Linked DNA regions of Homo sapiens. The protein of the gene in region 3 purifies or fractionates together with the protein of the main gene of each other region. This does not show direct contact. Each region holds a gene or a part of one and is shown on either strand. Other genes may lie near its edges. The genes, in order: ABCF2, FTO and ZC3H15.

The links.
Region 1: the proteins of ZC3H15 (region 3) and ABCF2 fractionate together in Homo sapiens (co-fractionation; one large-scale study listed by BioGRID). This does not show direct contact.
Region 2: the proteins of ZC3H15 (region 3) and FTO fractionate together in Homo sapiens (co-fractionation; one large-scale study listed by BioGRID). This does not show direct contact.

Annotation. Positions count from the first base shown.
Region 1 is NC_000007.14:151,210,916-151,214,183, reverse strand, and holds the end of ABCF2 (ATP-binding cassette sub-family F member 2), read left to right. Parts: coding exon 1-130; 3' UTR 131-2,700; downstream 2,701-3,268. Other genes in the region: ABCF2-H2BK1 (ABCF2-H2B protein), read left to right, coding at 1-126.
Region 2 is NC_000016.10:53,710,597-53,714,253, reverse strand, and holds part of FTO (alpha-ketoglutarate-dependent dioxygenase FTO), read right to left. Parts: intron 1-3,657.
Region 3 is NC_000002.12:186,496,133-186,499,789, reverse strand, and holds part of ZC3H15 (zinc finger CCCH domain-containing protein 15), read right to left. Parts: intron 1-3,657. UniProt on the Homo sapiens protein: Protects DRG1 from proteolytic degradation. Stimulates DRG1 GTPase activity likely by increasing the affinity for the potassium ions.

The DNA.
Region 1 (3,268 bases), on a different chromosome or scaffold from region 3:
GGAAATTTGGGTCTGTGAGAAGCAGACAATCACCAAGTGGCCTGGAGACATCCTGGCTTACAAGGAGCACCTCAAGTCCAAGCTGGTGGATGAGGAGCCCCAGCTCACCAAGAGGACCCACAACGTGTGAGCCCTCTACCTGGGTTCGGGTCAGGAGCTCCATCTGGGAACTAACAGCTGCTAACCTGACCAGCCGCTCAGGACAGGACCCTGGGGCTACACTCCTGCATTGCTGCAATACTGCTCCCCCAGCCTCTCCCCTGCCCCTCAACCTGCCTTAGCTGCACTCTCTTACCTACAGCTGGACAGTACCTGTCTGTTTCCTGTCCTCCTTCCAGTTACATCTGTCCATGTCTGGACTCGGCTGGCCGTTCCCTCCAGCCCCTTGCTGGTTATCTTACTCTGAGTGTGATGCAGTCAGAGGCACCTGCGGGTTAGCCCAGGGGCCCAAGCCCTGGATTTGGCCTGCGGAGGAGCTTAGGATCCTCGTTTTCTGGGTTTTGGTGATGTTGGAGGAGTACCCCCCAGCCCACCGCCCCGATTCCTTTTTGCTTCTGGTTTGGAGCTCCGGACCAGGACCTTCGTCCTGGTCAGTTTTTAAATAATTATTTAGCAGTGTAACTTTTAGACCTGCGTGACATCTACAAAGCGCCCAATAAAGAAAGAGGAAGCCACGGTCCCTACCTTCCTTCTCGGGTCTCTGGGGCCTTCTCCTCCCTGCAGTGCCAACATGCACTGCCCACAGCAGGAGCTGGATCCAGCGTCAGTGTGTCGATGGGAACTGAAGACTAGTCCATAGGAGCTGGAAGAACTTTGTCCCTTTACTTCTGATTTGAAATTGTACCTTTTCTCAGGCCTGTGATTCACAGACTTTAACATGAATCAGAATCACCTGGAGGGCTCATGCAATCAGATTGCCAGATCTCGCCTCAGCGTTTCTGGTTCAATAGGTTTTGGGGGAGACCAAGAACGTTAACATTTCTAGCAAGTTTCCAGGTGATGCTGTTGTTGCTGGTCTAGAGACTATTTTGAGAACCACTGTCCAGGAGCGTGGTTTTCTGATTGTGATCTGAGGTTCTGCCCCAACTGCACAGCAGTTGGGCTGCTTGTTAAAAATGCAGGCCAGGTGCGGTGGCTCACACCTGTAATCCCAGCGCTTTGGGAGGCTGAGGCAGGTGGATCACTTGAGCTCAGGAGTTCAAGACCAGCTTGGGAAACATGGCAAAACCCGTCTTTATGTGCCTGGAATCCCACCTGCTCAGGTGGCTAGGGTGGATGGATCGCTTGAGCCCAGGAGGTGGAGGTTGCAGTGAGCTGAGATTGCACCACTGCATTCCAGCCTGGATGACAGAGCAAAACCCTGTCTCAAAAAAATGCAGACTGGCCAGGCACAGTGGCTCACACCTGTAATCCGACTGTAAGCTCATCACCTTGGGAGGCCACTGTAGGAGGATCAATTGAGCCTAGAAGTTCAAGACCAGCCTGGGCAAAGTAGGGAGACCCCTTCTCTACAAATAGTAATAAAATGAACCGGGCATAGTAGCATGTGCCTGCGGTCCCAGCTGCTCTGATAAGAGGAGGCTCACTTGAGCCCAGGAGGTTGAGGCTGCAGTGAGCAGAGCGTGCCGCTACACTCCAGCCTGATGACAGACCGAGACACTGTCTCAAAAAAATAAAAAAATTCAGATTGCTGAGCATCAGACCTATTGATTAATCGCATTTGGTAGAATGAGAGAGGTGCAGAGATGGCCAGGAGTTTGCATTTTCACACCAACGTCTGTGAACCTCTCTTCCTATTGGGATACAGGAAATTTTGTATTTTTACCTGTCCACAGCCATAGTTATCATCACTGTTGAATTCACTTCCAGCCCAGGGCTCTGCATACCTTATCTGGGTCTTTTGAACTTCAATAGCATTTCACCAGTGGCCATCCTTCCTGGTGTGGATTCATCACTCTGCCTCTGAAATCAGCCATCCCTATGGGAAGACACAGCCATGATTTTTCAGTACTCATAATACAGCCAGGACTGGCGGGAGCAACTGTCCCAGATGGTGCTTAAACCCCTTAGGAGCTCATGATCTTCTTGGAAAGCCAGTAAGACAGAACCATACAGGACACAAATTAGATGCTAAATTGTGATTTAGATAGGAGACAGAAGTATTCAAAAAGGAGGGAAATTTCTTGTGAGTAGCTGCCCAGAAAGGTGGAATTGGTGTGCTCTCACTTGAAAAATGAGTAGGATCTTCTCAGATGGCCACAAAGTCCAGGAGCTGCCCTGGGCAACAGGGACAGGAGCCTCCCGTGAGACACTGCAGCTGAGACAGATGGGAGTCCTCTGACCCCAGAGGGTACTGGCTTGACTGCTTTATGCCTTAAGTGGGGCCTGGAGCAAAATGGCCCAGGTTAGTCTGTCCTGAGAGTCCAGAGCCTTGGTTCAGGGGAGAATGGCATCTGGAGAGTGGGCTGCTGGGATAATGGGGACAGTGAGGGACAGAGCCCTTGATACTTAAGGAAGTGCTGGATATTGCTAAGAATTCAGGTAGTCTCGGGATCTCCAGAGTCTCCATACTAGGACAGGAGATCTTCAGAACCTGGAGGAATGGAAATAGTCTAGTCAGCTTATTTGTCAAGAAAAATGTCAACCTTGGTAATTTAAATAATGCTTTAAAAGTCCACAAAATACATATTTCTAAAATTAGCAGTGCCTTGTTTTGGATTGAGAAGTGGCCTGTTAATTCTCTTAAACCTTAGCCCGTAGGATGTGGCCAGCCGTTCAGAGCTGGGTGGAGAGGTAAGTTGATTGAGGGGTTGCTAGCTTTAACACAGCCAGCAGGTGATGCTGGTCTTTGGAACCCTTCTCCCACCTCTCAATTTGTAACATCCTCTTTTCCCCCAAGCCCCTATACCTTTCATATTGCTCCAGGTTTCTTTAATCACAGCATTCAAGGGCCTGAAGTATTTGTTCCCCCATAGGTGCTAAGTGAGACAATTGACTTTCTCCATTTTGCAATGGGCTTTTCTTCCCTTTACTGCTAACTCCCAAGACCGCCACGTCTGCTTTTCTGGTGAGCACCTATTGCTTTTCTGCTTCTCACCTCCTCCAGTGGTCTTCCTCCCTGTCAGCCTCTTCACCACCTGGGGAGCTTCTGCTATCTGCATCTAGTCCAGGCTCAGGCGTTTTGCTCATCTGCCTTCAGTCCAAGCCTCATTATACTCCGCTCACACTGATTCCACTCTACCTTTCACACCGTTTCTTTCTCTCATTC
Region 2 (3,657 bases), on a different chromosome or scaffold from region 3:
GCAGACTTAGGGCTAATGCAGAAATCAGAGCTCTGAATTTTCTGATCACAAACAATTATGAAAACACTCATGCTCTGGCAACAAATCTCCTCCTCAGAGCAGCTGCAACATAATTTGGTCCTTCAAACTGAATTTTCTACTTGGTTTCTACCAGTTGTAAAGGTCTTAACTGCCCTTTATCCATATGGCAGTTTTTTAACATAAGGGGAGGCATGGTTATCTTGTAAGCAGGTCATTTCCAAAACTACAGAGTAAATAAATGATCAGCATAGCAACAGGACAGATGCTTATAGCAAAAACAAAAATGTACGTCTAATAGTCAAACTCATAGAATCAGAGAGTAGAAAGATGATGACCAGGGCTGGGAGGATGGGAAAGAGCTAATCAAGCGGCATAAAGTTTCAATTATACAAGATGAATCAGTGCCAGAGATCTGCTATACAACATTGTACCTACAGTTTACAATACTTTATTGTACACTTAAAAATGTGGTAAGAGAGTAGATCTTATGTTGTGTTCTTACCATAATAAAATACATTTTTTTAAATGCAAACCATGGCACCAATTCAAGGTTTAACTTTCAAACATGTGATGGCTTAACAAAGAGCATGCCAAGGACAAACGTTTGGAAACAAGCCCCTACCAACACAAATCTTCATCTCTTGAACCTGTTCTAATCCAACCCAAGGAATCCTAAGAATCCTCCCAGTTTACATTGTGAAATCAACCAGTGAGACAATTTTATAAAATATTACAAAACCAGTTTATAATAGAAGAGTAAATGAATGTGCTTAGCAGAACTCTAAATTCACCTTCTCTAAGGTGTGTTTTTCATTAAGGTTCCAAAAGTACCACCTTAACAAAAGTTCCTCTCCTCTAGAAGTTAGAAAGTCACACTTTAAATATAACTTTAGCAAGAAAACTGCCATAATAAACTAACAACAACAAAATACTCTAAATCTGAAAGGTAAACTGGCATTTTAAAATTGGAAGAGAACACTTGAAAACAAGTGTTGACAGTTGCTAAAGTATGTGTTGAACAGAAGAGTCTTGTTTCTCAAAATTAATGCCCACACCTATGGTATATTAATTTAAAATTCATAAGGTACTTAACCATTTTCCATTACTTCTTTCAAATTCCGGTTCCATCTCTCACTATTAGAAAGTCTACTGACCAATAACAAGTGATGCTCTTGGGAATTCATTCATTCATTGTTTGACAAGTATGGAATATCTACCATGTGTCTGGCAAAATCTTAAGGGCTAGGGATAAAATGGTGAATGACAAAACGGAAAAAAAAAAAAAAACATGATCTCTACTTTTTTGGAGACTATCATCTACATGCCAAAATCTGTATCACTAAACTCAGCCACAGTAAATCTCATTAGCAGCCAAGGATCCAGAATCATAATTATGAAGGGTCACATATATCACATAACAGATGCTGGACTCTCTCAACCATTTAATCTTTCTTCACCAGATACTTATTAATGTCTCCTTTGTGGAAGACATCCTGCCAGGTACAATGGAGAGATGAAAAGATGAATTAGACACAAATGCTATCTTCAAGGAAGCTACTGTTTGCTCAAAGTGTCTAAGAGTTTTTTTGAATGGCTAATTTAGTTTTCAAAACCAGTACTAGGAGGGTTAGGAAACAGCCTGGAAATAACAGAAAGCAACAAGAACTCACTGTTACTCGATAGTTTAGCTGGTTAATTTTCAAGTAAGGTACAGTATTAAAAGTGGTTTGGAAACTATGATCAAATACACTAACTCTTCTTCTATTTACAGAAGTCAACTAAACCTCCGAAACAGTGATTAAAGGCTTACCCATATATTGAAGGAGAGATTAAGCAAAAAATAATAATGGATTTCGGGAAGAAGGAAAAAAAACAGAGTAGAATCTGTCAGGTGAGGTTTTCATTTTTCAAGTCCCCTGGTCTTTGGCCTAACACCAAAACTGTCCTATATTTAGTGTCCACTTTAGATAAACTGGTGACATAATCTAGAATGGCCCATAATAAAAGTAGACTCCAAAAGAACCTTCTCAGGACCTCAATAAAATGCCAAATTTGAAATATAAAATAAGGTAAAAATACCCAGTCAGTAAAAACATAAATAACAAACTTTCTTTTGTTGAGTTATTGTTATTATTATTTAGAGACAGGGTCTCACTCTGTTGCCCAGCCTGGAGTGCAGTGGCATAATCACAGCTCACTGTAACCTCCAACTCCTGGTCTCAAGTGAGCCTCCTCCACCTTGGCCTCACAAAGCATTGGGATTACAGGTATAAGCCACTGCATTTGGCCAAGTTATTATTTTTATAACTCAATAAACCTTATCATTTAAAGTTGATAAGACAACTATCACCAAAAGCAGAAGAGTTTTTAAATCATGTTACTTAAAACGGTAGGTTACATATTCTGGATATTTTCCTTCATTGATAAAAATGTACATTACTCAAACAAAATTATTAAATGTTCTTAGGTATATAACCATTTCCATAATAAACTAGTTCTATTTTTAATAGTTTAAAAGATTATCTAACCTAAGCCAGCATAAGAGTCTTTGAAGCTAACTTGGATTTCAACATCCATAGCTTTTTATTCCATGACTAATGAAACAGTTTTAATGTTTCTGAAAAACCCCGTAAGGAATCCCAGGCCTCTCATAAGGATACACCTTTAAACAGATCTTCTAAGGAAGGAATTCCATGACTACTAGGCCATGTTAGATCCTCTTTGCTACCGTGTCCTCCCGTGATAAAACTCACCACTCTGCTGTTGGTACTTACTTACCTTCCATGGACAGCCAGCCAGTTCCATGGGACTGTGTCTGCCATCTTTACCCTGGTGCTGAGTACACTACTCGACACTTAATCAGGTTCCTTATCTGAACCACAGAACACAGAAAATGGTTTGAGTGACTATATTCTCAATTTTCTGAAAGGTGGTACAAAACTAGTACCATTCTGGCTGCATGGGAAATAAGTTAATGGAACCCCATTTGAGAAAATCCACTTGACTAGACACTCAACATAAGTTTACAGAATAAACGTCCTGGGATCAGAATACATATATATATATATACATACAGAATATATATCTACTGGGGTCAGATAGGCAGTAGTGAAGGTGGTGGTGATGATGGTGATAATGATGATGATAACAATGTTTATTTTTACTGTATGCCAGCAATGTTTTATGTGCTATATAATATCTCAATCCCTACCAGAACCATATCACTCCTATTTGATAGATGAGGAAATGGAGGCTCAGAGAAGTTAAATTGCTTGCGCAAGTAAATGAGGGAGCAGAATTCAATCTCAGGAGTCTGCATCTAAAGCTCCACACTACACCACTATATTGTAACTTAAGGGGCAAAACTGGATGACAGCAAAATGGAAAGCACATTTCCCACCTAAAAGGGAAGCCACTATTCAATTCTAGTTAGGAAAATGCATGCCCACTGTTACCAGATACTTAAGTTTTTCAAGAGAGTCAGACACCCAGATCTTTATGTGAAATCCCTCAACTTTTAAATATTAGAAAATAATTCTGAAACAACTTTTAGTTTGTTTGGGCCAAATAAAACTTACCTACAGCCAGGAGGCATATGTGGATTATAAATATGTGACCTCTAGAGGCCCCATCTTT
Region 3 (3,657 bases):
CCACCCCAAAAACCTATATAGTGCCCTCATGGAAAAACACTGGGTTAGGTCAATGTAGGATATTAAACAAAACAATTCAAAACAAAACATGACATATAACATAGTTCCAGGCACACGATTTACATACCTAATATGATTAGAGGATTCATCCAAACATTTATACGTCAGGTCCTATGTTAGATGACAGAGAATACAATGAAAAGACAAAGATGCTTATTTAAAGAAGCTCAGAATCTAGCAGGATGACAGACATGTCAACAACTGTAACATAGTACATAGTGCTCTGGGAACAAAGAATGCCCATATACCTGAGAAAACTAAATTGAGCCAATAACCTTATGGATGAGTTTTTCTTGATGGGCAAGAAAAGAAATACAGAAAGAGCCAGCCAATGCAAAGTTACAGGGACTAGAGGAATAAAGTATGAGAAACATCAGTAAGATGCTTAGATTGCATCAGTAGCTTGAACAGAGTTCTCTCAACTGTTTAAAGTAACCCAATAACAAGGTCAGGTCACATTTTATAAAATATCAAGAGGGCAAGTTTTGTAGAGGATGGATTGGGAATCCAAGAATAAAGGCAAGAGGCTGCTGCAACTGCTGTACACAATAAAACACAAGAGCTTAAAATGAGCATTACTGGTAAGGATGGAGAAAAGGAGACAGAGCTGATAGGACTGACTGAACATGAAGTATAAAGGGGGAGGAATCTAGGATTATCATGTATATGGTTAGTGCCGTTAAACAAGACAGGGAATACAGGAGGAACAGGTTTCAGGGTAAGAGGTGAAGATGAGCTTAGTTTTAGACATACAGAGTGCAAGATGCTTACAAAGCATCTGGGTAGAGCTCTTTTGAAGGCAGATAGACATGCATATTGATTCCACTGAAATCAGAGAGGGTCTGCTTTGAGATAAAGACTTTAGAAATAGCAGCTTACAGGTAACAATTAAAACTTTGGGTATATGGTACTTAAGGAGAGCATAAAAAAGTGGCAAGAGTAAAGGACACTTCCTTGAAGAAAATCAACATAAAATGGGACAAAAGAACCTAAAAAGTCCAATAAAAAGACCTAGAAACATCAAAGAAGCAGGTAGAAAACCAGGACAAAATGTGTTCAAGAAAGAGGAAATTTTAGGAAAGGAATGGCCAAATGCTATAATTAGGTCAAAGACATCCCAAATCCTGAATATGACTCTATATGGTGGATGTGTTTAAACACAAAAAATGTTTTGAAAGAAAAAATTTAAGTCGCTTAATTTTTAATAGAAGTATCCTTTGCTCATCAGGCCCATCTCAAACATTTGTGGGGCAATGTTTGAGCAAGAATACAATGGAGGTCTACAAGCCATTTATCTAAATATTTAAAATTAGAAATCAAGTTCATGATGAATAAAATATGGTCTGTAACCCTACTCGACAAATATACCTTATGACCTGGAAGGACAGGTTCAAATTTAAAATGCTCAGACTCCATGGAGTTCCACACTGAAGCATGGCAGCAACACAAGAGTTAGCCCTGGGCTCTTTTTTCTCCTCTTCCCACCCCGTTTCATTCCATTTTGGGTGTAGGGGGAGGTAAAGGTGCAAGAAGGAAGGAAAGGGTATGGATGCAGGCTCTGTTCAAACCCTTAGCGTACACTGTTCTCTTGGCTACCTCAGACATATTGGTAGCACAATGGACAGAGATGGGCATGGTGGAGAGGCCTTTGTAGGCAGATAAACCAGGGTCAGAATGTTGTAGGAAGAGATGTTGCAAAATCTGGGTGGGTACATCCCCTTGGCTTCAGTGACTCCTTACCTGAGGGGAGACAGCAGTCTGGAGAAGACACATGTATCGCAGGGCCTAGACCAGGATACCCCCTGTCCAGCTCTAAGAGCAGCACTACTGCTCATTTCCGATGTTATATATGATGGGTAGGTACCCCATGTTCACAGATAAGTCCAGTTATCCACGCAAGTATCAAAAATATAGTATTAAATATACTATCAAAGCTAACTACCAGCACACACATTTCATAACTTTCCCAGGTTTATGAATTCTGATATCACCACTCAAAACACTTTCCACTAGAAGAAAAAGTTGGGGAAGAGAAAGCAGGATTGAAAAAGGGGCTAAGTGAAGAAAGTGAGTTCTTCTTACATATTGATATCTATATTCACCAGAAAATTTACATTATTTTCTTATTTAACCACCAGAAGAATCCAACAAAGAATAACTGCACTTCCACAGTACAGATAAAGACCAGGGTTGCTATTTAAGGATCATGTAACAAAAAAGATAGGAAGATTCACACCCAAGTCTATCTCACTGCAAGGTCTCAGCTGATCTGCCCGCCCCGGCCTCCCAAAGTGCTGGGATTACAGGCGTGAGCTCTAAACATTAATTTTTATTAAACCGGGCTATTAAGTTAGCAGTTTGGAAGAGCAATAGTTTTAGATTCTAGAATCAAGCTGGGAAAATGGATGTGAAAGGAAAGTGTTGGGTCACTGATTTGCAGACAGCATGAGCAAGAGAAATTTACTTATCTCACAAATACATATTAGCAGATTTTTAAAAAATCTGTAAACACATGAGAAATTCTTTCTTCTCTCCTACATTACAAAAATGTGTTTCCAGAAGTTAATGAAAAGGAGATAAAAATGGTGGAAAAATGTACTTTAAAAATAAAGATCCATGTCTATGAAATCTTTACAAGTGAGAGGTCTAAAGAACCTGAAAAAAAAAGGGGCTACATTTTTTTCAAATGAGTTGCCAATGGATAAACTCATTTTAAAATTCGTATGAAAGAATAAATGCCTAAGAACAACCAGGAAAAATAGAAAAGGTATACCATTTTGGGGAAAAGACTTGCCTTGAGACTTTAATGTACAGTCAAGCACAGAATTAATGACATTTAGGTCAATGAGGGACCACATATGACAGTAATCCTGTAAGGTTATAATACCATATTTTTACTCTATCTTTTCTATGTTCAGACACAAATCATTACTAATGTGTTACAACTGCCTACAGTATTCAGTACAGTAACATGCTGTATAAGTTAGAAGCCTTGGATCAATAGGCTATACCATATAGCCTAGGTGTGTAGTAGGCTGTAATATCTAGGTTTGTGTAAGTACACTCTATGATATTTGCACAATGACTAAATCGCCTAACGACACATTTCTCAGATTGTATCCACATCACTAAACAATGTATGACTATGACTGTAGGATAATAGTGGTATTTCAGTTGGATAAATGATGCTGGTGTAAGCAGCTATTCATTTAAAAGAAAACAAACTTAGTCTGGGCATGGTGGCTCACGTGTGTAATCCTAGCACTTTGGGAGGCCAAGGCAGGCGGATTGTGAGGCCACCCTGGGTGACACGGCGAAATCCCGTCTCTACAAAAAATACAAAAATTAGCTAGGTGTGGTGTCATGCGCCTGTAGTCCCAGCTACTTAGGAGGATGAGGCAGGTGGATGGCTTGAACCCAGGAGGCAGAGGCCGCAGTGAGCCAAGATCACACCATTGTATTCCTGCCTGGGCAACAGAGTGAGAACTTTAAGATATATAAAATAAATTCATATGACATAGACTATAAAAATAAAATAATTACAAATGATCTAGGAAAAACATGCAGAATCCAGTGGCAGGGGAGACCTTATAACCA